Linked DNA regions of Homo sapiens: regions 2 and 3 are each linked to region 1. The links come from fine-mapping of genetic effects on gene expression. A gene starts in region 1. Each other region holds a variant in brackets. All regions are shown on one strand. Distances are from middle to middle. Region 1 holds the start of DCAF15 (DDB1 and CUL4 associated factor 15). Region 2 overlaps RFX1 (regulatory factor X1). Region 3 overlaps RFX1 (regulatory factor X1).

Region 1 (10,174 bases):
TCTACTGGGAAGCCACATGTTCAGATAAAAATGGAGTTTCTTGGCTGGGTACAGTGGCTCATGCCTGTAATCCTAGCACTTTGGGAGGCCGAGGTGGGCGGATCACGAGGTAAGGAGTTTGAGACCAGCCTGGCCAACATGATGAAACCCGTCTCTACTAAAAATACAAAAATTAGCCAGACGTGGTGGTGGGTACCCGTAATCCCAGCTTACTTGGGAGGCTGAGGCAGGAGAATTGCTTGAACCTGGGAGGCAGAGGTTGCAGTGAGCCAAGATCGAGCCATTACACTCCAGCCTGGGTGACAGAGCAAAACTCTGTCTTGGAAAAAAAAAAAAATTGAGTTTCTATCACTACTGCATAAAAGTGGGATGACCTGTAAAAAGGAAGCAATGAGGAGTTAGGACCACAAGGAAAATTGAGCCCAAGGCTTTCTGTGTTCAAAGCCACTGGTCTCCAAAGTTGGGTGTGGGAAATGAATCATAATTTCTAGTTCTATTTACCTGCCCCATCCTGTTTTATGGCCCTTTTCCAGGTATGATTTAATTCACAGGCTAGAAAGAGTGGTCTAAATGCACCTGTATAGTTGGGTTATTTGTAAACAAATACATATACGTATTAAGGGAGAGTCCAAGTGACGAACGATCAGAAATATGGGAAATCTTGGCTAGGTGCAGTGGCTCACGCCTGTAATTCCAGCACTTTGGGAGGCCGAGGTGGGCGGATCACGAGGTCAGGAGATCAAGACCATCCTGGCTAACATGGTGAAACCCCTTCTCTACTAAAAACACAAAAATTAGCTGGCCGTGGTGGTACGCACTTGTAGTCCCAGCTACTCGGGAGGCTGAGGTGGGAGAATTGCGTGAGGCTGGGAGGTCGAGGCTACAGTGAGCTATGATCACACCACTGCACTCCAGCCTGTCTCAAAAAAAAAAAAACACAAAAAAACAAAAAAAAAACACCATAAAAACACCTTTATAATAATTGTTGTAGGCGGAGGTTTCAGTGAGCCAAGATTGCACCACTGCACTCTAGCCTGGGTGAAAGAGCAAGACTCCATCTCAGAAAAAAAAAAAAAAAAAAAAAAAAAAAAGGCTGGCCATGGTGGCTCATGCCTGTAATCCCAGCACTTTAGGAGGCCAAGGCAGGTGGATCACCTGAGGCCAGGAGCTCAAGACCAGCCTGGTCAACATGGCGAAACCCCGTCTCTACTGAAAATACAAAAATTAGCTGGGCCTGGTGGTGCATGCCTGTAATGCCAGCTATTTGGGAGGCTGACGCAGGAGAATCACTTGAACCCGGGAGACGGAGGTTGCAGTGAGCTGAGATCGCACCATTGCACTCCAGCCTGGGTGACAAGAGCAAAACTCCACCTCAAAAAAAAAAAGAAAAAAAAAAGAATTGAGGTAAATTGCAGGACATCATGTTGGTGTCCACCAAGAATTGGGGAATTACTTGATTTGGGAGAAGCTGCCCCATCATCTGGTGTCAGAAGCGAAGGATTGAGAGTGATGTGATATAGAAGGAAAAACAGTCTGTTTGTCCCATGTACGTATTCAACTGACTTGGGCCAAACTGACTTCTCCCTAGTCTTCCTCATATCAAAAAATGGCACTAACATTTTGCTAAATATTCCACTCAGATGCTAAAGTCATCATTAACTTCTCTCTCCTTGCCCCTATCCCAATATCTTGTCCTTGAAAATGACCCCATCGGCTCTGACTATGGCCACTTTTCTCCATTTTCTTTCTTTATTTTTATTATTATTTCTGAGACAGCGTCTCATTCTGTTGCCCAGGCTGAAGTGCAGTGGTGCGATCATGGCTCACTTGCAGCCTTGAACTCCTGGGCTCAAGCGATCCTCTCACCTCAGCCTCCCAAGTAGCTGGGAGTACAGGCTCAGGCCCTCATGCTAATTTCTAAAATTTTTATAGAGATGGGATCTCACTATGTTGCCCAGGTTGGTCTCCGGGGATCAAGGGAGACTTTAAGCAATCCTCCCACTCAAGCCATCTCCTGCCTTGGTCTTCCAAAGCACTGAGATTACAGGCGTGAGCCACCACGGCCAATATTCTCCATTTTCTTTTCTTTTCTTTTCTTTTTTTTTTTTTGAGACGGAGTCTTGATCAGTCGCCCAGGTTGGAGTGCAGTGGCGCAATCTCGGCTCACTGCAAGCTCTCTGCCTCCCAGGTTCATGCCATTCTCCTGCCTCAGCCTCCTGAGTAGCTGGGACTACAGGCGCCCGCCACCACGCCCGGCTAATTTTTTTTTTTTTTTTTGTATTTTTAGTAGAGACGGGGTTTCACCATGTTTAGCCAGGATGGTCTCGATCTCCTGACCTCCTGATCCACCTGCCTCAGCCTCCCAAAGTACTGGGATTACAGGTGTGAGCCACCATGCCCGGCCGTATTCTCCATTTTCAATGCTAGTAGATTAATCTAAGTCAGCATCACCTACCCTCCTGGCTCCCCCAAGACTATTCCTGCCCCCATCCTCATCCCCCAAGACCATTCTGCACATAGCAGTCATAATAACATCCTCCTGGCCGGGTGTGGTGGCTCACGCCTGTAATCCCAGCGCTTTGGGAAGCCAAGGTGGGAGGATCACGAGGTCAGGAGATCAAGACCATCCTGACCGTCCTGGCTAACATGGTGAAACCCTGCCTCTACAAAAAAAAAAAAAAAAAAAAAAAGCCAGGCATGGTGGCAGGCGCCTGTAGTCCCAGCTACTTGGGAGGCTGAGGCAGGAGAATCACTTGAACCTGGGAGGAGGTTGCAGTGAGCCAAGATGGTGCCACAGTCCTCCAGCCTGGGTGACAGAGTGAGACTCTGTCTCAGAAAAAAAAAAAAAAATCCTCCCCCATGCTCTTTTAAAAACTTAGAGTTTATTTATGTGTTTATTTATTGACACAGAGTCACGCTCTGTGTCACTGAAACCTCTGCCTCCCGGGTTCAAGCGATTCTCATGCCTCAGCCTCCTGAGTAGCTGGGATCATAGGAGCCCACCATCAAGCCCAGCTAATTTTTGTATTTTTAGTAGAGACAGCATTTCACCATGTTGACCAGGCTTGTCTTGAACCCCTGTCCTCAAGTGATCCGCCCGCCTTGGCCTCCCCAAGTGTTGGGATTACAGATGTGAGCCACCGTGCCTGGCCCCTTTGAATTTTGAAACAACATTATTTTATTTTTGTTATTTGTAATTTTATTATTATTATTATTAAAGACAGGGTCTTGCTCTGTCACCCAGGCTGGAATGTAGTGACGCCATCACAGCTCACTGTAATTTCAAACTCCTGGGCACAAGGGATCCTCCCGACTCAGCCTCCCACGTACATAGGACTACAGACGTGCTACCACACACCAGACTAATGAAAAAAAAATGTTTTTTCATTGTAGAGACGAGGTCTTAACAGTTGCCGAGGCTGGTCAAATTCTTCTCAAGCCATCTTCCTGTCTCAGCCTCCCAAAATGCTGGGATTACAGGTGTGAGCCACTGTGCCCAGCCTGAAATTAGACATTTTCAGATCTGCAAAGAAGGTACAGAGAGTTCTTTTATTCCCTTCACTCAATTTCCTCTAATGTTTTTTGGGTTTTGGGTTTTGGGTTTTGTTTTGAGACAGGATCTCACTCTGTCGCCCAGGCTGGAGCGCAGTGGCTCAATCTCCGCTCACTGTAGCCTCCAGGGCTCGGGTGATCCTCCCACCTCAGCCTCTTACGTAGCTGGGACTGTAGGTTCACGCCACCACACTCCGCTAAATTATTTATTTATTTTTTTTTTGAGAGTCTTGCTCTGTCACCCAGGCTGCAGTGCAGTGGCGTGATCTCGACTCACTGAAACCTCCACCTCCCAGGTTCAAGTGATTCTCCTGCCTCAGCCTCCCGAGAAGCTGGACTACAGGCGTGTGCCACCTGAGATTACAGGCCCGGCTAATTTTCTGTATTTTTAGTAGAGACGGGGTTTCACTGTGTTAGCCAGGATGGTCTCAGTCTCATGACCTTGTGATCTGCCCACCTCAGCCTCCCAAAGTGCTGGGATTACAGTCGTGATCCACCATGCCTGGCCTTGTTTTGTTTTTTATTTGAGACAAGGTCTCGCTCTGTCTCCCAGGCTGGAGTGCAGTGGCACCATCATAGCTCCCTGCAGCCTTGACCTCCTGGGCTCAAGTAATCTTTCTGCCTCAGCCTCCCGAGTGGCTGAAACTATAGGCGTGTGCCAGTAGAGTCAGTGAATTTCTTTGATGTTTTGTAGAGATGAGGGTTTCGCCATGTTGCCCAGGCTGGTCTTGATCTCGTGGGTTCAAGTGATCCTCCCTCCTCTGCTTCCCAAAGTGCTGGGCTTACAGGCATGAGCCACCGCACCTGGCCTGGTCATGTATTTTGAGAACCTTCTTCAATCTGGGATAAATGTCTGATGTTGTCTAATGGTTAGATTGAGGTTCTAGGTTTGGGGATAATATCAGACAGTTACAAATGTCCTCCCTATCACATAGCTGGGGTCCGTGATGTCAGTATGACTTATCACTGGTGATGTTGATTTTGATCACTTGGTTAAGGCAGTAGCTGCCAGGTGTCCCCACTGTCTTGGAGACAGCTTTGCTCTCCATGGACGTAGGGTATGCAAGAAGCAGGGGAACCTTTGGCTAAAGATACATTGTGATGGCCGGGCGCAGTGGCTCACGCCTGTAATCTCAGCACTTTGGGAGGGTGAGGTGGGTGGATCACTTGAGGTCAGGAGTTTGAGACCAGCCTAGCCAACATAGTGAAACCCTGTCTCTACTAAAAATACAAAGATTAGCCGGGCATGGTGGCACATGCCTGTAATCCCAGCTACTTGGGAGGCTGAGGCAGGAGAATCGTTTGCTTGAACCCGGGAGGTGAAGGGTGCAGTGAGTTGAGATTGTGCCATTGCACTCCAGCCTGGGCAACAAGAGCAAAACTCCATCTCAAAAAAAAAAAAAAAAAAAAAGATATGTTGTGATATTGTGTTGTGATATATTTTTAAAAAACCATATTTTGGTCTTAGGTTTTCTAGTACATAACTCCTAAAACCCTTGAAATCAGCTGGGCACAGTGGTTTATGCCTGTAATCCCAGCACTTTGGGAGGCCAAGACGGGATGATCCCTTGAGGTCAGGAGTTTTCGAGCAGCCTGGGCAACATAGTGAGACCCCATCTCTACAAAAAAAATTTTTTTAATGAAGACAATAAAAAAAAACTATCTTCTAGATTGTTCAGAGGATTAAATGGGCTGGCCAGGGGTGGGGGCTCACACCTGTCCTCCCAACACTTTGGGAAGCAGAGGTGGGAGGATCACTTGAGCCCAGGTGTTGGAGACCAGCCTGGACAACTTGGTGAAACTCCGTCCCTACAAAAAATACAAAAAATTAGGCCGGGCGCGGTGGCTTATGCCCGTAATTCCAGCACTTTGGGAGGCCTAGGCGGGCGGATCACCTGAGGTCAGGAGTTCGCAACCAGCCTGGCCAACATAGTGAAACCTCGTCTCTACTAAAAATACAAAAAATTAGGCAGGCGTGGTGGCGCACGCCTGTAGTCCTAGCTACATGAGAGGCTGAGGTGAGAGGATCATCTGAGCCCGGGGTCGAGGCTGCAGTGAACCGTGATCACGCCACTGCACTCCAGCCTGGGTGACAAAGTGAGACTCTGTCTAAAAAAATAAAATAAATGAGGTAATGTATACGAATATGATGCACGGAGCGGACCTTCAACAATTATTTTTATTGCTATGATCTGCATAATTGGCACAACAGGGCCCTGCCACATCGAACTGTTTAAGCTCAGAACCGTGTCTGTCACATGTGGAGCGATCCATGATTGATGCTATCATTATCACCACCATCATCCCACCAACCCGCCCATCGGAAACAAGCTTTCATCGAATCCCATCGTTTTTTCCTTTTTTGTAAATCTCTTTCCTCGGCCTGGCTCTGCCGCCCAAGTATGCTCGTCAGGCCTTTGCCCACCTGGACCGGGCGCGGGCAGCCCGGGGCTGAGGATTCTCGAGCCTTGGTGGACCACAGGCTCCCGTCGCCCCGCCCAAGGGCCTGGACCGCCTGTGGTCTCCATGGAAACCCGCCAGCCACAGGGGGCGTGACGCCGTTGAGACAGACAGAGATATTCACCTATCAGATCAAAGTTATCTGGGCAGGGCGAACAAACGGGACCTCCGAGTGGTACGTCCTTAAGGCGGGGCGGGAATACGGCAACGGGCCGCGGGGGCTGTTACTGTCGCTACCAATCAAGAGTCGAGATGGCTTTGATGGACAGGCATAGCGCGAGTGCGGGCTTTCGCCCAACCGGCGGGCCGCTGTCCCGAAAAAGGACCAATGAGGAGGCGGCAGGGGTGGGGCGAAGGGGCCGGTTGCTCCGGAAGTGGAGGGAGGGGGTGAAAATGGCGCCCAGCTCGAAATCGGAGCGGAACAGCGGGGCTGGGAGCGGCGGCGGCGGCCCCGGGGGAGCCGGAGGGAAGCGGGCAGCAGGGCGGCGGCGGGAGCACGTCCTCAAGCAGCTGGAGCGGGTCAAGGTGAGGCCTGGAGCCGGAGTGGGGAGCGCGCCGGAGGGTGGGGAGTAGGGACGAGGGAGGCGGAGGGAGGAGGGCGTTCGCGGGGTGAGGGGTTGGGGGCGGGGCCCCAGGGGAGGGGGCTCGGATGCAGGGCCTGGGCGGGGCCCGGGGGAGATGGCTTGGATGGAGGGGGCTCAGTTGGGGGCCTGGATGCAGGTGGTTGTGTCGGGTGACCGGCAAAGGGGCTGGGATGGAGGGGGTTGGGGGCGGGGCCCCAGGGAGGGGGCTCGGAGGGAGGCGACCCCAGAGGCCGCAGGGAGAATCAGGAGGAAGGGGGCGATCCAGGCTTTTCAAAGCTCTGCTCCCATGGTTGCTCCATAATGGAACCTTCCCGCCCCCTTTGCAGAGCCCCTGCCGCTGGCTTTGGGCTTCCTCCGCCTGATGTTCCTCTCCCTGCCCAAGCCCCGACCACACATGAGCTGGGAGTTCCAGTACCTGGGTGGGCCTCCCCATTGAAAGTGTGGGAGCTCCCTGGATAGGGCTGAGTCTTCCCCCGCAGAGTGAGAGTTACCGAAGCAGGCTCTGTCTCCTCCATCAGACTGGAAACTCCCAGAGCTGGGGGATGATGTCTCTCTCCCCCATCAGTTTGGGAGCTCTGGAGGGCAGAAATGTGGATCTCTTGCAGGTGGGCAGTAACTGGGGCAAGGCTGTGTCTCTGTGGACAGGGACTGCGCCTTCTCCGTGAGGCTGGTAGCTTTGTAAGGGCAGTGCTGTGTCTCCCCCTTTTGACTGGGAGCTCCCTGGGCTGGGACAGTCTCCGCCCTTAGCCTGGGAGCTCCCTGGGCTTGGCTGTGGTTCCGCCCTTAGCTTGGAAGCTCCTTGGGCAGGGACTGTGTCTCCCCTGTCGGCCTGGGCCTGGCTGGCCAGGCTGTTTCCTCCGTCAGACTGAGACCTCCATGTGGACAGGGCTGTCTCCCATCAGACAGGGAGCTTCCCAGACAGGACTCTTCCCATCAGATTGGAATGTCTTGAAGGCAGAGTTGGGTAGCAAGACTGAGGCTGTTCGGATATCCCTGTGCCTGGCTTCTGCCTGTCAGTCCCCGCAGATCCTTCCGCGGTGAAGTTTTGGGGATGAGGGATTCCCTTGGATTCCGTTGGAAGGCGGTAGTTAATTGGGAAGGGGGCGTTGGGTCATTGGTTAGGCTCACCCTTCTATCTGCCTCGACTGGCCCCCAGCAGAGGCCAGAGCTGCCCCGGGGAGGAGGAGCCCCCTTGTTTGAAGGCTGGTGGGTTGGGAACAGATGGGTGCAGGTCAGGACTCTGTCCCAGCCTCCTTAGTAGGATAAATACCCACAGCTTAGGGACAGCCTTCAGGGAGGGAAGCAGGTGGCCCAGCGTGGGACAGGGTGATTGGGGAACTTTCTTGGGGGCGGTGACGCTGGGCTCAGTCAAGAGGGACCTGAGGCTGAAGAGGTATGGAACTGGGAAGGTGGCCTGGGTCCCTGGTGGAGATGAAGGCTCAAGCGCGGTCCATCTGGCTTTACTGTCCCCATCTGCCTCAGTTGTTCCCACCTTCCAGAGCTTGGCCTTCTTTTGACCATTATGGTGGGCTGGGCCGGTCTGGACCCGGTGAGAGCCGCTCTGCCTCTCTGCCGTGGGTGAGGGGGCTGGGGGCTGCAGATGGTGCCTGAAGTGCCCTGGCCACCCCTTCCCCAGATCAGCGGACAGCTCTCCCCTCGCCTCTTCCGGAAGCTGCCTCCCCGGGTGTGCGTGTCCCTCAAGAACATTGTGGATGAGGACTTCCTCTATGCAGGGTGAGGCTGGGCCCAGGCAAAGGGGGCAGGTGGGCGGGAGTGGTGGGCTCGCCCTGACCTGGCCGCTGTGCCCCCTCCACCCCCACAGACATATCTTCCTGGGCTTTTCCAAATGCGGCCGCTACGTCCTCTCCTACACCAGCAGCAGTGGGGATGACGACTTCTCCTTCTACATCTACCATCTGTACTGGTGGGAGTTCAACGTTCACAGCAAGCTCAAGCTGGTAGGGAGGCTTCAACACCAGGCTGGCCCTTCAGATGGTGTGGTTCAGCAGGTCACAGCAACCTCTGAGCCTCAGGTTCCTTGGGTGTAAAATGATCATCATGTACTCCTGGGGTCATCATCAAGATTCCATGTGTTAGATCCAACCATATGAAATTACCAGGGCCTGGCATGGTAGCTCACACCTGTAATCCCAGCACTTTGGGAGGCCAAGGCGGGAGGATCACTTGGTCCGAGTAGTTCAAGACCAGGCTGGGCAACATGGCAAAACCCTGTCTCTACTAAAAATAAAAAAAAATTAGCTGGGCATATTGGCGTGTGCCTGTAGTCAGCTCCTCTGGAGGCTGAGGCAGGAGGATCACCTGAGCCCAAGAGTTTGAGGCTGCAGTGAGCCATGATCACACCATTGCACTCCAGCCTGGGCAACAGAGTGAGACCCTGTCTCTAAAACAAAACAAAACAAAACAAAACAAATGAAGGCTGGCCACAGTGGCTCACGCCTGTAATCCCAGCACTTTGGGAGCCCGAGGTGGGTGGATCACCTGAGGTCAGGAGTTCAAGACCAGCCTGGCCAACATGGTGAAACCCCATCTCTACTAAAAATACAAAATTAGCCGGGCATGGTGGCACATGTCTGTAATCCCAGCTATTCCGGAGGCTGAGGCAGGAGAATCGCTTAGAACCTGCGAGGTGGAGGTTGCAGTGAGCCGAGATCGAACCACTGCACTCCAGTCTACAGAGCAAGACTCTGTCTCAAAAAAGAAAAAGAAATTACCATTTTTATGGTTCAAAATGGGTAAATAGCAGCAATTCCATTTGGTTCAACACACCCTATGAAGCTGTAGAACATGTTGGCTCAGGCCAGTTAGCTTTATTAGGACCAGGCCACCCTGGCTTTAGCCTTGACCCTTGACTCCTGGAACCCCCCCAGGAGGTGTGCTGTTACCTCAGCATACATGTGAACTCAGAGAGCTGAACGGGCTTCAGGGTAGGCTGGGCTTGGAACCAGTGCCTGGCGCAGTCTCCCCCGGGACATTGTTCCCATCGGCTGCATCCCACCCTGGCCTGGTCTCCCCGACTGGTGAAAGGAGCCTCCACGGCTGTCCTCAGGCAAGGTGGAGGGGTGTGGCGGGTGCTGTTGGGGTGCTCCTACCCGCTCAGCCCCAGCCCTGATGAGGGACTGCATCGTACAGCTTCGGGGGACCTCCGCAGTTTCCCTGACCCGGTGCTGCCCCTGAACGTGCCTCACAGGTCCGGCAGGTTCGGCTATTCCAGGACGAGGAGATCTACAGCGACCTGTACCTGACCGTATGCGAGTGGCCCAGCGACGCCTCCAAGGTCATCGTCTTCGGCTTCAAGTGAGACCAGGCGCCTGGGGGAGCCTTGGCTGGTTGGGGCAGGGGGTGTGCAGTGGGGGCCCCCCAGGCGCCGACCAGGCAGCTGAGGGTATGCTGGCCCCCAGCACCCGCTCGGCCAACGGGATGCTCATGAACATGATGATGATGAGTGACGAGAACCACCGTGACATCTACGTCAGCACCGTGGCCGTGCCACCGCCAGGCCGCTGTGCTGCTTGCCAGGATGCCAGCCGAGCCCACCCAGGTGAGGGGGCCGAGGGGGC
Region 2 (8,000 bases), 35 kb after region 1:
CTCACACCTGTAATCCCAGCACTTTGGGAGACTGAGGCGGGCAGATCACCTGAGGTCAGGAGTTCGAGACCAGCCTGGCCGACATGGTGAAATCTTGTTTCTACTAATAATACAAAAATTAGCCAGGTGTGGTGGTGCACACCTGTAGTCTCAGCTACTCAGGAGGCTGAGGCAGGAGAATCACTTGACCCTGGGAGGCGGAGGTTGCAGTGAGCCGAGATCGAGCCATTGTAAAACCCAACAGTACTTTGTCCAGATCTGCGCTGATCAGTCGGAAACGGGTGTGCGCGGCACCTCATGCGCAGCCTTCTGGGGGACAGACCACCCTGTGCTGGCTGTGGACTCCTGACTCTAAACCTGGCCTTGGGTTCTCTGCTTCGGGACACTGGGTTGGACCCGCAAACCACCTTCCCAACTATACATCTTGTTCTCTCTGCTGAGATGGCTCCTGCAGCTCCTCTGTCCCTGATGGCCCCTGCCGGATAGTCTCACCCTGGGGAGGTGACTGCCCAGAGCCAGGAGGTAGGGCAGCCCCTGGATGGGGACTCTTCCCTCCATCCTGGTGAGGACAGATCCAGGCTTGCCACAGGGGGTTGGTCCTCCACCCTGAGGGAGCCTTCCAGGGTGGTGGCCAGGTGCAGCAGCATTACCTGCTGGGGCACTTGGATGTTGGTCAGCTGGAGGGGCGACACGTGGCCTGGCTTGGCCTGCACGCTCGTCTGGACCAGCAGCCGCTGTGGAGACAAGGCAGGAGGAGCTGAGCTGCCACTTCCCCCAGGGAGGCCTGGCGTGGTTGGGTGGCGGGCGGCTGCTGTGCACATCTTGATAAGAACAGGTGAGCAGATGGCTCCAGCAGGAAGCGGGGAGGGGAGGTGAGGCCCCCGAGGACGCAGCCTGCACTGCCCCCCTCCCGGGCCCTCCCCCACCCCCTGGGAGGGCCACATCCTACCTGCTGGGTGCCCTGCACCTGCTGAACCACCTGAGTAGGAACGCCGGTCTGGCTGGCGGTGGAGCCGGGGCTGGCCTCCGACACTGTCTCGCTGGCCCGCATGGCACCTTCTGTGGGGAGGGGCCACCAGGTCAGTTCTTCCTGCTTTCCCTGCCCCCAGCCTAAGCCTGAGCCCCCCTGGAGGGGAAGATGCAGCCTGAAGCCAACCCCCAGCAAGGTCAGGCCCCTCCAAGAGTCCTGCTTCCCCCTGGCCAGCCCTGACTGCACCCATCAGGGGCCCACGTGGCAGAGCGGGCTGAGGCTTGCAGGACCCAGGATCCTTAATACCTGGCAGCAGCCCTCATCAGCTTTCCTCATCCTGAAGTCAGACCAGATAGGGTGACTGAAGAGCTATGATGCTCAAAACCCAGAAGGCTGGACCCTTCCCAGCAGACGGGACTTGTGGACAGGCAGGGAACTGACTGTCCACTCCAGGGTCCTGGCAGCGCTGGAAGGATCGAGGTGCTGGGGCCACCTTCTCTGGGGTGACCCTGGCTTCCCGGGAGTGGAAGCTGCTCGGAGGAGTGGTCCCTGGAAGGTCTTGCTAGCCTGTGGCCAAGTCCTCCCTCCCTGCCCCTCTGTCCTCAGTGGGGTGGGGACCACAAGGGGCTTGGAGTGGGGGAGGCAGGTACTCACGCTGACAGGCAGCTGAGAAGAGACAATCATAGAACATGGTGCTCATCCCCTCCCCCACCCCACCCGCCCCCCACCCCGTCCGCCTGTCCGTCCAGGGGGGCCTGCCTGGCCCTCTTTGCTCCTTGCCTGCCTCTATAGAACAGCAGGGTGTGCAGGTGGCTTTATACCCACGACCTTGGGGCGCTAATCCCCCCGGTGGATGCAGAGAGCCTGCCTGCCCTCTTGGAAAAACACTCCCCTCCCCAGCAAAGCGGGGCCTTCGCGGGGCTGGGGCAGCGCTGCGGGGTGAGGAGGGAGGTTGGTACCCGGAGATGCTATCAGGCAGGCACAGGTCAAATTTCATGCACATCTTGCTGAGTGATTAGCAGGGGTGCTGGGGGTAGAGGCGAGTGTTCCCAAGAGGCGCTGGCTAGAAGACCCTCACCCCAGCTGGGACACCATCCATCCCATCCCCTCCATGTGACCTGGCATACCCCCAGCAGCTCCAGAGGCCGAGGTGGGGCTGGGGGTGGACATGTACCTGCCCTTCCTCCACCATCAAGGAGCCAAGGTCCCAGGCCCACCTTTCTTGGGGATTTAGAGGGGTTTATCCGACCCCCGGCAGGACTGAAGGGCCACGGGCAAGGAGTTATCACTGCAGACACTAGTGTTGCTTCTGGCACACTAGGTGTTATGTTAGACTCTGGACAGCCAGAGATAGAGCTTTTTTGTTTTTTTGAGACAGGGTTTCGCTCTGTCACCCAGGCTGGAGTGCAGTAGCACGATCTTGGCTCACTGCAACCTCTGTCCCCTGGGGTTCAAGCAATTATCCTGCCTCAGCCTCCCAAGTAGCTGGGACTACACGCATGCACCACCATGTCCGGCTAATTTTTGTATTTTTAATAGGGACTGGGGTCTTGCTATATTGCCCAGGCTGGTCTCGAACTCTTGGACTCAAGCAATCCACCTGCTTCCATCTCCCGAAGTGCCGGAATTACCGGCGTGAGCCACTGTGCCTGGCTGACAGTAAGAGCTTTCCGGGATTTTTTTTTTTTTTTGAGACAGGGTCTCACAGTTGCCCAGGCTGGAGTGCAGTGGCGCAATCTCTGCTCACTGAAATCTCCGCCTCCCGGTTCAAGTGATTCTCCTGCCTCAACCCACTGAGTAGCTAGGACTGCAGGCACCCGCCACCACGCCCAGCTAATTTTTGTGGTTTTAGTAGAGACGGGGTTTTGCCATGTTGGCCAGGCTGCTCTTGAACTCCTGGCTTCAAGTGATCCGCCCGCCTCGGTCTCTCAAAGTGCTGGGATTACAGGCATGAGCCACTGCACCTGGCTGACAGTAAGAGCTTTTATTACCCATTTTCAGACAAGGCAACAGAGACCAGAAGCAAGGAAGTGATCTGTCCAAGGTCAAATGCACCATCCACCGTGCAGGCCATGACGCAGGTTCCCCTCTGGGCCCACACGAACCTCATACCACATATGGAACCGGAGTCACTGGTTCTGCCTGGGCTGCGCCCCAAGGGCAGTGATGTGTGAACTTGGGTATATGGGCACAGGAAGGAAAGTAAGCTGGGGGTCTACGGGGACCCCTCAAAGTCTGAAGTATCCAGACTGGGTCTCGGCTGTCCAGGCAGGGCACAGGAGGGAGAGGGGCCTGGACAGGGCAGGAGGGCTATTCAGGGCAGATGCAAAGGCCAAGTCAAGGGCAGAGCGCAGGAGTGTGTGTTGGGGGCGGGGGTTGCCAGATGTGGGAGGTGTTGGGGGAGGCCTCCGCGTAGCCGCATGTGGGCTGTGGGGCATTTGGTCAATCCCATGCCTGCCTGACCAGCTACCTGTGCAGCCAATTCCACAGGCCCTAATCCCTGTGTTTTGCTGGAATCTTCCCTGGCATCTGCTTTAGGCTTCCCAGCCCTGAGCCATAAGGGAGGAGGCCCTTGCTGAGAGGGCCCCTCCTGGGAGAAACCCGAGACAGCCCCGAGTCATGTGACCGGCACTGCACACCTGGGTCCGTGGGGTCCAAGGACTCAGGCCCAGCCTAAGGGATGGTGTCTCACCCAGGAAGCTCAAGGTGGGCAGGGAGTGGGGGGCTGGCCCCCCACCCTCTCCAGGGCTCAGGGGCTGGTCGCTGAGCAGGACCTACAGCAGGAGGAGGCCTGGGGACCTGCTGAGACCAGGTGGCTGTCTCCAGGAAGCAGCCTTGCCCGTCTCCTGCCTCTGGGGTAGCCCTCAAGGCTGGGACCCCGCCTGCCAGCCCAGGAGGGCGCCAGGGGATGCGCCACGAGGCTAACAGGTGAGCCTGAGTGACTCATGCGGATGAGGGCTTCCTGTGCAGCCATCCCTGTCTGCCTGCGGCCGGGGCAGGGCCCCTCCACCACTGGGTCTGGCCCTCGCTGTGTTTCAGGGAGGAGAAGCCAGGAGGGGAAGTGGGGGGTGGCACTGAGTCTGCGAGCGAGCGTCTGCATCTATCTGCCGGAGATCGCCACTCTGGGCATG[C/T]GCAGGAGGCCAGGGAGGCCCCCACTGTCTCAGGAAACGGCGGCCGATTTCCTGTCTCTGAATCTGACACATTAACATCTCTGAGCAGTGGAATGACTCTGACAAGTGGGCACCCATCCTCCCCGGGCCCCGCACTTCCCCATCTAGACCTACTCAAACCTTAAATGAGCTACTTGGGGGAGCCCAGGGGAGGCCCTAGAGGCTGGACTCCTGGCATCCACCCTGGGGGCCTGGCCCCCTTCCCCATAGACAGATGGGGCCACCTGACCCTCTGCCTCCTGCCCCTGGGCTCCCTGGGATGATGTCAGTCAGGGGCTCCTGGAGGGGCCCCTGCTGCCCCCAGTGTCCTCTATCCCTTGTCTGCTCCAACCTCAGTTTCCCCATCTGTGCTTGGGAATGCTGACAAACACACTCCACTTCTCTGTCTGGACACAAGTCTTCTTGGCCCCCCTAGAACTCCAAGTGAGAGAGAAGCAGGGAAGAAGGGCCGGACTCGGCCCCTCCTTCGGGGCGGCCCCTGTTCCCTGCAGGCCGGCTCGGTTTCACCTTCCCAGGAGTGGCTGCCAGAGCCCACAGCACTCTCCTTCCGCCTTGGGTTCTGGGAGAGTCTGATGGCCTCTGAGGACAGGGATTTATGGATCTAGTATTGTTCCTGACCAGGGAAACTTGATCTTCCTTCCTACCACCTCCAAAGTCACCTTTAGGCAGGGCAGGCAGGGACCGGGGCTGGGTGAGCTGTGTCTGGTTTGGTGTCGGCTGGTGTCCAGCCCCAGGCTCCAAGTCTGGGTCCAGGCCCCTCCCTTCCTCTTCCCTGCCACCTCCCTGGGTCCCTGGTCAGCTCCGATTGCTCCTGGCTTGGGAGAAGTCCTAGGTGCCTTGTGGCAGCCTTCACTGGTGTCAGTTACTCCTGCTTCCCCGGCGCTCACGTGGCCCCGGCCACCCTTAGATGAGGAAGGACGCTAACCTGGCAGAGGGTCAGGGAGGAAGGCTGGGGAGTTACTGCAAGGGGTGGGGGAGGGGACAGCTGGCAGGGCACAAGCCAACCTCCTCTTCCTCAGAACAAATCCAGGAAGCATTGCCCAGTGACCCTTCTGGGGACAGGCTGGCACCTGCCAGAATGTGGAGTGGCAGGGAAATGAAATTCCCTGGGACCACTGTGAAAGGCGACTAAGCTACCGCCTGACCAAAGTGAGCCCCAGAGAGTTCTGTGGACAGCAGGGTTGCTACAGCCTGCCCTCATGGGTACAGAGTACCCTCCTGGGAACACTACCAAGATGGGGGAGACAGAGGCCACCTCCCCATGCCTAACAGCTACTTAGAGTCCGGCCTAGCTCTGTCTGACCCAAAGACCATGCCTTGCTCTTGACTTGCTCTTGACTTCTTGCTCTTTTTTTTTTTTTTTTTTTTGAGACAGAGTCTTGCTCTGTTACTCAGGCTGGAGCGCAATGACATGATCTCGACTCACTGCAACCTCCACCTCCCAGGTTCGAGCGATTCTCCTGCCCCAGCCTCCCCAGTAGCTGGTGCTACAGGCACACGCCAACACGCCGGGCTAATTTTTGTATTTTTATTAGAGACGGGGTTTCATCATGTTGGCCAGGCTGGTCTTGAACTCCTGACCTCAGGTGATCCGCCTGCCTCAGCCTCCCAAAGTGCGGGGACTTGGTCTTGACTTTGAAGCACCAGGGCCCCCCTGAGGGAGTGCGGGAAGAGCTGGAGAAGCCAAGGTCAAGAGTGGAAGGACTTGGGGAGTGGTGGAGCCTGGAGCTGTGTGCCCACTCCAGACCCTGGCTCTAGGGAGCCTGGACCCTGAAGCAGGTAAGACCCACACCCAGGGCGTGGATCAGGACCCATCAGACACTCTGGGCGCCAAGCAGAGCCATCCACTGGTGACATGCGAGGCCTCCTGCAAACAGTCAGCCATGCAGGAGCTGATGGGACATGATGGCTGTGCTAGGTGCTCCTCTAGGCTGTTCTGGGTCAGGCTGGTGCTCCTCAGTCATTCCACAGAGACTGAGCACTGACAGAGCCCTGCCTGCAGGTGGGCACCCCCACCATCCCATTATTGTAACTTCAAGTAGTGTTAAGTGTTAAGAAGACCAGCGGGGCGCAGTGGCTCACACCTATAATCCCAGCACTTTGGGAGGCCGAGGCAGGCAGATTACTTGAGGTAAGAAGTTTGAGACCAGCCTGGCCAACATGGCAAAACGCCATCTCTACCAAAAAATACAAAAATTACCCTGGTGTGGTGGTGCGCCCCTGTAATCCCAGCTACTCGGGAGGCTGAGGCAGGAGAATCGCTTGAACCCAGGAGGCAGAGGTTGCAGTGAACTGAGATCGCACCACTGCATCCGGCCTGGGTGACACAGCGAGACTTTGTCTCAAAAACAAACAAACAAGAAGACAGAGAGTGAGCAATGGGGGTAGGGGCAGGGAGGTGTGGAGTCAGAAAGGTAGTGTCTGAGCAGCGACCTAAGGGAGACAAGAGGCAAGCTCCCAGAGGGTCTGGGGCAGGGAGTGCTCCTGGCAGAGGGTACCGAGAGTGCAAAGGTCAGGAGGCAGGACTGAGCCTGGCGGGTTTGTGGAGCTGTAGGAAGGCAAGAGGGGCTGGACCAGGTATGTGAGGGGATGGGTGGAAGTGGGCGAGGCTGGGAGGCTGGCAGGCCAGAGTTGAAGGGGCTTGACATTTGCTAGTAGGGGCACAGGGTGTGTGGAGCATTTTTGCATTTTGTTTTTGTTTTTTTGTTTTTGAGACGGAGTTTCACTCTTGTTGCCCAGGCTGGAGTGCAATGGTGCAGTCTTGGCTCACTGCAACCTCCACCTCCTGGGTTCAAGCGATTCTCCTGCCTCAGCCTCCCAAGTAGCTGGGATTACGGCGCCCACCACCACACCCAGCTTAGAGAGAGAGAGAGAGAGACAGACAGACAGACAGACAGACAGACAGAGAGAAAGAGAGTGTGTGTCTGTGTGTGTAGCTTTTAAAGTCCTTTTTTGTCAGGTATCGGGGGAGGGGAAGGAGCCTGCTCTCCCAGAGCTGAGAAAGCCTAGGCTGGGGTTTCTCAAAGAGTGCCCATGGAACCACCTGGCTTGGAGCCATCAGGGTTGAGCTAGGATGTGACGGGACCTAATGGACAGTTGTGAACCTGCTCCCTCTGGCTGCTGGGAGGGGTCAGACTGTGAGGGCGGAGGCTCGACCAGGATTGGGGTCATAGAAGTGGAAGAGGCGGGGGGGGTTCTGGAAGAGTTTAGGAGGTGGAGCCGAGAGGTCTTACTCAAGGAGGAGTAGGACAGAAACAAGACTGACCGTGGGCCTGGGAGGATGAGAAAGCCTTGAAGGAGAGATTTGAAGAGGGAAAAATGCAGAATTCAATGTGGCTGCACTGGCCTGCATCAAATTCAACACCAAGTGGATGAGTCAGGAGGGGCTGGATGTGGGGTCCTGCGGTTCAGGGTTGCAGCCCAGGCTGGAGACCTCAGTGTGGGTAATGAGAGCTGGGACACAGGATGAGGCCATCGTTAAGGGAGAACTACAGGAGCTAAGAGAGGTTCCCAGGTCTGAGTCTGGGGCTCCCCGTCCTTTGCTGACAAGGTCAGGGAGATGGGGAGAAGCAGCAGAGAGGACCACGGAGGGGCTGCGGGCGGTGGGCGGAGACCAGGGCAGTGTGGGCTCCTGGAGGCCTCACAAGAGGGGATCTTTGGGAAAAAGGGGGCCAGCTGCAGGGGGTCCAGCAGCTGGAGGTTCCTGGAGAAAATGGGGGCTTGGCTGGGCGCGGTGGCTCACACTTGTAATTCCAGCACTTTGGGAGGCTGAAGTGGGAGAATTGTTTGAGGCCAGGAGTTCAAGACCAGCCTGGGCAACATAGTGAGACTCTGTCTCTACAAAAAAATTAAAAGATTAG
Region 3 (8,000 bases), 25 kb after region 1:
GGCCACACAGCATTCAATCCCAGGACATCTGCATATGTTCTCTTCATTGGGGGCCACACAGGCTCCTGCTAGCGGTGGTTGGTAACCACCGTCATGGACTGGGCTTCTAGTGCCCACCACCCACCACTGCCTGCCTCCTCTGGGGCCCGCGTTGGGGCACTTACCGTGGCTGGCGAGGCACGGGTGGTGTGAGAGTAAGACTGGCTGGCACTGCCCAGCATGTAGCCGCCTTGGATCACGTAGGTGCCTGCTCCGCTGCCGCCGCCTCCGGTGCTGCCACTGCCACCCCCGCCACCGCCTCCCCCGCCGCCGCCGCCACCACCACTGCCACCACCTCCGCTGCTGTTGCTGGCCCCAGCCCCAGTGCTGGTGGAGCTGGCGACGACCTGGCTGCCGGACACGTACATGGGCATGGAGCCACTGCTGGCCACCGCCTGGGAGGTGGCGGGGGTGCTGACCTGGGTGGCCGTGCCTGCGGCCTCGTAGTAGCTGGTGCTTGCCGTCTGCGTGTACAGCGGCGTCTCGGGATAGGAGTAGGTGCTGGAACGGCTGGGAAAGAGGCAAAGCCAAGGGAGAGTCAGGGGGATGAGAACTGGGGGGCCGAGGGGCATGACTGTGCAGGAAGGGGGGTCCTAGGAGGGGACTGGGGAAGCAGCAGCTCCCCTGCAGCAAGGAGCAGATCCTAGCATTCATCTACAACGGACTGGGTACCATCCTGAGTGCTTGATGGGCAGTATTTCATATAATCATCAGCTGGGCATGGTGGCTCCTGCCTGTAATTCCAGCACTTTGGGAAGCAGAGGCAGGAGGATCGTTGAAGGCCAGGAGTTCAAGACTAGCCTGGGCCACATAGTGAAAACCCATCTCTACAAAAAATATGAAGATTAGCCAGGCATGCTGGTGCACACCTGCAATCCCAGCTACTTGGGAGGCTGAGGCAGGAAGATCCCTTGAGTCCAGGAGTTCAAGGTTGTAGTGAGCTATAACCATACTACCACTGCAGCAAAGCCTAGGTGACAGTGAGACTCTGGCTTTTTATTTTTGTTATTTTATTTATTTATTTACTTATTGAGACAGAGTCTTGCTCTGTCACCCAGGCTAGAGTGCAGTGTCGCAATCTTGGCTCACTGCAACCTCCGCCTCCTGGGTTCAAGCTATCCTCCTGCCTCAGCCTCCCAAGGAGCTGGGAATACAGGGCTCACCACCACACCAGGTTAATTTTTGTATTTTTTTAGTACAGTTGGTGTTCCACCATGTTGGCCAGGCTGGTCTCGAACTTCTGACCTCAAGTGATCCACCCGCCTCAGTCTCCCACAGTCCTGGGATTACAGGCATGAGCCACCACACCTGGCCGACCCTGTCTTTTTAATTAAAAAAAAAAAAAAATACCGAAGGGTTAGGGAACTTGGAATGCTACACACTTCATTAAAAAAATAAAATTGGCAAGTACTTCGAGTGCCTACTGTGTGCTAGGCACTGTTTCACACACTTTGGACACAGCAATGGACAAGAATGAAAAGCCCCGGCCCCCGGAACCGTCTAGTTGGGGAGACAGGCAAGAAGCCACGTGCAAAGGTAAATGAGAGATCATAACAGAAGGTGATCAGGCAGTGAGTGAAGCAGGAAGGGGGTGGGGCTAGAGAAGGCGATGCTGTGATTGGAAGGGACTAGAGAAGGCGACGCTGTGATTGGAGAAGACCATCAGGAATGCAGATATGTTTCCCCTGAGCCAAGCTACCTATCCCAGGCTGGGGAAGCCTCTCTCCTTCAGATATCGCGTGACGGGATGGGCACCGGTGACACAGGCTTGAGGCTGCAAATCGTCACAAGTATACAAGTATAAAAACCACCAGGGGTTCAACCTCAAGGGGCTGTTAAACAAAAGATGATGGAATCCTATGCAGGGGTGAAAGAGAAGGAGGCAAGGCTTGTCGTCCCCCGAAAGAACAAGCTCCAGAACCTAACACCGGGCAGATAAGAGGCAGAGAAGAGTGGGGACCGTGTGACCGAACAATAGGGAAGAATGCGTTGCATGTGGCATGCGTGTCTGTCATCTGTGGGCATGGAGGGCTCCGTCGAGGGGGACAGGCAGGGGGCACCTCTCACCATCTCGCTAAACATCGTTGGACATAGTTTTGATCTTTGAACTCTTTCAATGTACTAGTGATTAAAAACATAGCATTAGGCCAGGTGCAGTGTAATCACACCTGTAATCCCAGCACTTTGGGAGGACGAGGCGGGTGGATCACTTGAGGTCAGGAGTTCGAGACCAGCCTGGCCAACATAGTGAAACCGTCTCTACTAAAAATACAAAAATTAGCCAGGCATGGTGGCAGGCGCCTGTAGTCCCAGCTACTCAGGAGGCTGGGGCAGGAGGATCACTTGAACCTGGGAGGTGGAGGCTGTAGTGAGCTGAGATCATGCCACTGCACTCCAGCCTGGGTGACAGAGTGAAACTCCACCTCAAAAAAAAAAAAAAAAAGGGAGGGGGGCAGGGGCAGGCACGGTGGCTCACACCTGTAACCCCAGCACTCTGGGAGGCCAAGGCGGGTGGATCACCTGAGGTCAGGAGTTCAAGACCAGCCTGGCCAACATGATGAAACCCTCTCTCTACTGAAAATACAAAAAGTTAGCCGGGTGTGGTGGTGGGCGCCTGTAATCCCAACTACTCGGGAGACTGAGGCAGGAGAATCGCAGGAGAACCACCCTGAAGGTGGAGGTTGCAGTGAGCCAAGATTGCACCATTGCACTCCAGCTGTGCAACAAGAGGGAAACTCTATCTCAAAAAAAAAAAAAAAAATTAAACATCCAGAAAGACAGTGTGGTCAGTCAAGAGGTGGCCTGGCTCAGACTCTGAAGGTGGCAGGGGAGGGAGCCGCACAGGCCCGAGTGGTTGTGGGTGAACAAAGAGAGGGAGTTGAGGGGGACAGTGGAAGGAGATATGGAAGCATGGTCTTTGTCACACATCAGGTCCAGCTCTCGATCTCTCTGTCCTGCCCTATGTCTACCACACAAAGTGACACCAAGAGCACATGACCTGAGCAAGAGCCCCTACTTCTCCAAGGCGGGGGCCACAGCCTGCTCACTCCTGCACACCCAGCATGCAATGTGTGCTGCAAAAAGGTTGCTTTGGTAGATGGTTGCTGAATGACTGAATAAATGAATGTGTGCAGCTCTGGATGCCCCCCAGAACAGGACCAGGGATGGAGGCCCAGGGGCTGTGGCTTTGGCCAGGGTGGGGATAGGGCTGGCAAAGGGTCGGGAACTCGCAGTAATTCACTCAGAGGGAGAGACAGAAGGGGTGGGCAGCTGACAGCAGGAGTGGCCCCCAACAACTTCTCGTAGCAGAAAAACCCGATAGCAACGATGAACTAGGTGCAATCACACACACTATGATCACTGAGAGAGGAATTCAGACAGAAGCAAAGGAGAGACAGGAGAGACGCTACCAGGGATGGCAGCAGGAACCCTTGGACACCGTGTTCCTCTTTGCAATGCCCTGTCTGGCCCCTGCCAGCTTGGCTCAACCACACAGTGAAAAGATTAGCAGCACTGGAAAGAAACAAATGGAACTGTGAGGTAGCCGGACGCCGGGGACCAAGCCTCACGATTTAGATGCCTGGACCAGGCCCACTGGGGTCGGTCAGAGCATCATGACCCTAGGACTAAGTCGATCCATGAGCTAACCAATCCCAGCATTGTCCCCAGAAGAACAAGTGGCAGGGATGAAAAAAGAAATCATGCAAATGCAAAGAAAACCAAGTGAAACCTCTGGAAACTAAACCAACAGTAACTCTAGTACTGCAGCAATTTCTGTGGAGATGGGAGAGGGAAGGTGGCATGGAGGACCCCCGGCGAGGAGCCCGAGCCGGGACTGAAGCGGGGCCAGGACGTGGCCCCTGCCTGACACGGCCCATACACAGGAATGGTAGTGCTGTACCCAGGGAGGGGAAGAAGCCCCCTATGCATCACTGGGTGGGGACTGATGACATCGTGGCTGCTGCATCTGCACAGGGGTTATTACACAGCAGCTAAGAGGGTGACCAGGACCCACGAGGACACATGG[T/G]AGAAGAGCCAGGAAAGAAATAAGGTATGGATGGAATGTCCTGCGTCTATTTCTGACCACAGAAAGCGGGTAGAGGCTGGGCACTGTGGCTCATGCCTGTAATCCCAGCACTTTCGGAGGCCAAGACGGGAGGATCATTTAAGTCCAAGAGTTCGAGGAGATGAGCCTGGGCAACGTGGCAAAACCCCATCTCTACAAAAATACAAAAATTAGCTGAGCATGGTGGTGCACACCTGTAGTCCCAGCTACTAGGGAGGCTGAGGTAAGAGGATTGCTTGAGCCCGTGAGCTGCAGTGAGCCCTGATCGCGCCACTGCTCTCTGGCCTGGGCGACAGAGTGAGACCCTGTCTCAAAAAAAACAGAAAAAAAAAGTCCAGTGCGGTGGCTCATGCCTGTAATCCCAGCACTTTGGGAGGCTGAGACGGGTGGATCACGAGGTCAGGAATTGAAGACCAGCCTGACCAACATGGTGATACCCCATCTCTACTAACAACACAAAAATTAGCTGGGTGTGGTGGTGTGTGCCTGTAATCCCAGCTACCCGGGAGGCTGAGACACGAGAATCACTTGAACACAGGAGGCAGAGGTTGCAGTGAGCCGAGATCACACCACTGCACTCCAGCCTGGCGATAGAGCAAGACTCCATCTCAAAAAAAAAAACAAAAAAAAAGAAAAAAATGGATAGAGGGCTAGAGTTTCTGTTCTTAGAGTATCTCTGGAAAGAAACAAAGAAACAGGTCACAGCATCCTCTCTGGGACAGGGTTGAGAGTCAAATGATTTTTTTTTTTTGAGATGGAGTGTCACTCTATTGCCCAGGCTAGAGTACAGTGGCACGATCTCAGCTCACTGCAACCTCCGCCTCCTGGGTTCAATCAATTCTTCTGCCTCAGCCTCCCGAGTAGCTGGAATTACAGGTGCCTGCCACCACTCCTGGCTAACTTTTGTATTTTTAGTAGAGACAGGGTTTCACCATGTTGGCCAGGCTAGTCTTGAACTCCTGACCTCAAGTGATCTGCCCGCTTAGGCCTCCCAAAGTGCTGGGATTACAGGCGTGAGCCACCGTGCCTGGCCTTTTTTTTTTTTTTTTGGTTAAAAACCAGGCTCATTTGACTCCCAAGCCCTAAGCTATGCCGGGGTGCCTTTCCCAACCTTCAAGGGTCCCTCTGCTTCGCCACTTTTCGTGGCTGTGGCTGCCCCTGGGGAGTGCCCACCTGTGTGTCTGTCACCTGAGGCCTTGAAGGCCGGATGGCCTGCTGGGGGCTGGGACTGGGGACTGGTGTCCTGGGAGACTGGGGAGGCTCCAGTGCAGACCTGACTCCCTCACCCACCCCTCTCCCTTCACTTACATGGCACTGGCCGTGTAGCTGGCATCGCCGCCCTCCACATACTGCACCTGGCTGGAGTACACGTGTGGGACGGGCACCTGCTGGAGCTGCTGCACCTGGGGCAGAGGAAGGGCACGTGGAGGGTCAGGGGTGGGCCAGCTCCTACGGTTCTCCCTCTAAAGGGCTGGTGCCCACCCAGGCTATCCCTGACGCCCAGCTCCCGGACCCAAGGGTGGCTTCTGGACTCTCAACAAAACACCCTGGAGGAGGCCAGGGCTGGGAATCAGGAAGAGCTGTGTCAGGAGAAGCCAGGACTCTCGGCTTCGGCTGGGGCCAGCAAGGGTGGGGCCTGACGGACAGTGGAGGGGACCCGAGACAGGGTCCTGTAGTGGGCGTGAAGGTTGGACCCCAGGCACAGGGGCAAGGCTATCGCTGGAGCCATGGAGCTACAGAAAGGGCCTCAGGGGTGGGGCCTGGAAACCGGGCACAGGATGTGAGGGGCGGAGCCTGGGGCCCCGGTTGGTGGGACAGAACCTGGAATCACTGACAGGGCCTTAGGGGCGGGGCCTGAGTCCCCCACCTCCATCCCCCACCCTTGTCTGCAGGGGCGGAGCTGGGACCTGGACGGGGCTTGGGTGGGGAGTCAGAGGCGGGTCCCTAGACCGACCCGTCGGGCGGAGGTGGGGTCTACAGGGCTTGCGGGGCCTGGTGGGCGGCCCAGACTGGGCGCCCCCGCCCCCGCCCGCCCGCTGCCCCCCGCCCGTGCGTCCGCCACCTACTTTGAGGGCCGTGGCGGCCGTGCCGAACACTAGCACCTGGGGGATTCTCTGGATCCTGACCCTCTGGTCGGGGCTGGCTCGGGCCGGGAGCCGGGACAGTGGCTCGAAGACCACTTTCTGCTGCGGCAGGAGCAGGTGTGGGGGCAGCACGCCCACCAGCTCCACCCACTGCTCGGCGCCCGGCTCGTAATGGGGCGGCGGCGGCTCGGGGCTGCCTAGCTGCGGGGCCTCGCCGCTGCACGCGGGCGGCCGGGGCGGCGGCTCCGGCGGCGGCGTGGGCCGGGGATCTCGCTGCTCTGCCTTCCTAGCGGGAAACTGACTGCCTGAGCTCTGGAGGACAAACAGAGACACTGGGGGGTCAACGGGGGCGGCCGCGGGCGGGGCTCCAGGCCTCCACCCACCGGGTTGCTGAGCGCGCACGCAGCCACCCGAGGGAAGATCCCCGCCGCCCGGGGTCTCGGAGAGGGGTTAGAACTGACCCAGGGCCACGCAAGAAAGAAGAGGGGTTTGAATCCAGATCTCTCTTAGCAAAACCTGGACCCTGAGCTGCCAGGGGGCCGGGAAAGGGGAAGGATGTAGGGCAGTGTCTGCAGCTCACAGAGGCATTTCCCTCCCTGCGGCCTCAGGGGCCTGCACTCCCCAGCCCCAGCCCGGGACCAGCCCCTTTGCCCGTGGGGTAGGAGGGGGAGACACACACCTCTTGAGCCACGTGGACTGGCTGGAGGCCCTGCACGGTCAGCGGCTGCACCGGGCCGGGTTTGGGCGCTTGTGGAGTGGCCTGGACCACAGATCTCTGGGAGGGGAAAGGCAACAATAAGATGACCATGGCAACGATGGCCGTCAACCTACCCAGCCCCTGCACAGGTGAGCTTCTGTAAAGCTCACAGCAGACCCATAAGCAAGAGGCCACCATTCTCCAGCCAAGCAAGGAGGGTGCTGGATCCATTACTGATAAAGTGAGGCTCCCAGGAAGCAGCAGGGCTGAGTTGAACCTGGGACTAACTTCGGGGTCTCTGCTCTCCGCCCCCTCTCCCTACGGGCCCCTGAAGCTGTGCCAAGAACCCGCAGGCAAGGCCTTGGGTTATCTTTCGTCCCCACACCCCCCAATGTCAACTGTGTGCCCTGTTCTGTGCTGTGGCGGGCATGCGGGGATTATCCTAGGGGCGCAGAGCCAGGGACGGAGGCTGGCGGAGGAGGGTGCTGAGTGGAGGAGCTGGGGCCTGGACCTAGGTCTGGAGGTTCGGGGGGGCTCTAGTGCCAGGCGGGGGAGTATCTGTGAAACCTCTGGGACAGGGTTTCTGTTTACACTTGGGGAAGGGTCTATGGATTTCATCTGTTTTTTCAAGGGGCTTGGAACCCCCTCAACTTCAGTGGTAACAACCAGATGGTGCGCAGCCCCAGCATCTTAACCTGCGCCGGCTCAGGGCTCTGCCTCCTGCAGAGGCTGGGTGTGGATTTGGGGGCTGGGTCCCCTCCCTGAAATCCTCCCCAGAAGGAGCCAGGATGTGGCCTCGGGGCTTCCTTCAGGCAAATGGGCCCAAAGAGGCTCAGGTGGCTTCTCCAAGCGGTTCCCATGGCCCACTACGCCCCAGTCTCCTTCCAGGAGGTTCAAATTTCGTCCTCCCCGCGGCTCCCCCATCCTCTAGCCCCAGGATGCTGAGTCTGGAGACAGGCAGAGATGCTTATCAAAGGCCAGGGTGGCAGGCTGGGGCTGGACCCACATGGGCTGGGCTCTAATAGGCCAGAGGCACAGCCGTGGGGGGCTGCAGAGGCTGCCTGGCCGGTACCCCTGGACCGAGCCACTGCCCGCCTTGGCCTGGCACCTCTTG

Evidence for each region.
Region 2: its variant is fine-mapped to the expression of DCAF15 in whole blood (TOPMed, PIP above 0.99).
Region 3: its variant is fine-mapped to the expression of DCAF15 in tibial artery (GTEx, PIP 0.94). The same link has a PIP of 0.9 or more in atrial appendage.

What each region holds. Positions count from the first base shown.
Region 1 is chr19:13,946,108-13,956,281 of GRCh38, forward strand. DCAF15 (DDB1 and CUL4 associated factor 15) reads left to right here and starts at 6,402. Exons shown (of 13, transcript NM_138353.4): 1 at 6,402-6,537; 2 at 8,233-8,330; 3 at 8,419-8,554; 4 at 9,805-9,911; 5 at 10,016-10,155. The coding sequence starts at 6,406. It also overlaps a transcript of PODNL1 not described here. RefSeq lists an enhancer at 5,775-5,824 and a silencer at 6,485-6,624.
Region 2 is chr19:13,982,537-13,990,536 of GRCh38, forward strand. It overlaps RFX1 (regulatory factor X1), which reads right to left. Exons shown (of 21, transcript NM_002918.5): 3 at 950-1,059; 4 at 651-734. Among named protein-coding and RNA genes, the nearest start is that of RFX1, 20 kb to the right of the region's middle. RefSeq lists enhancers at 420-946, 2,705-3,596, 3,623-3,672, 4,488-5,378. The variant C/T (reference allele first, on the strand shown) is at 4,102.
Region 3 is chr19:13,972,579-13,980,578 of GRCh38, forward strand. It overlaps RFX1 (regulatory factor X1), which reads right to left. Exons shown (of 21, transcript NM_002918.5): 6 at 7,995-8,000; 7 at 6,869-6,964; 8 at 5,414-5,508; 9 at 165-549. Among named protein-coding and RNA genes, the nearest start is that of DCAF15, 24 kb to the left of the region's middle. RefSeq lists enhancers at 6,922-7,448, 7,449-7,975, 7,976-8,000. The variant T/G (reference allele first, on the strand shown) is at 4,067.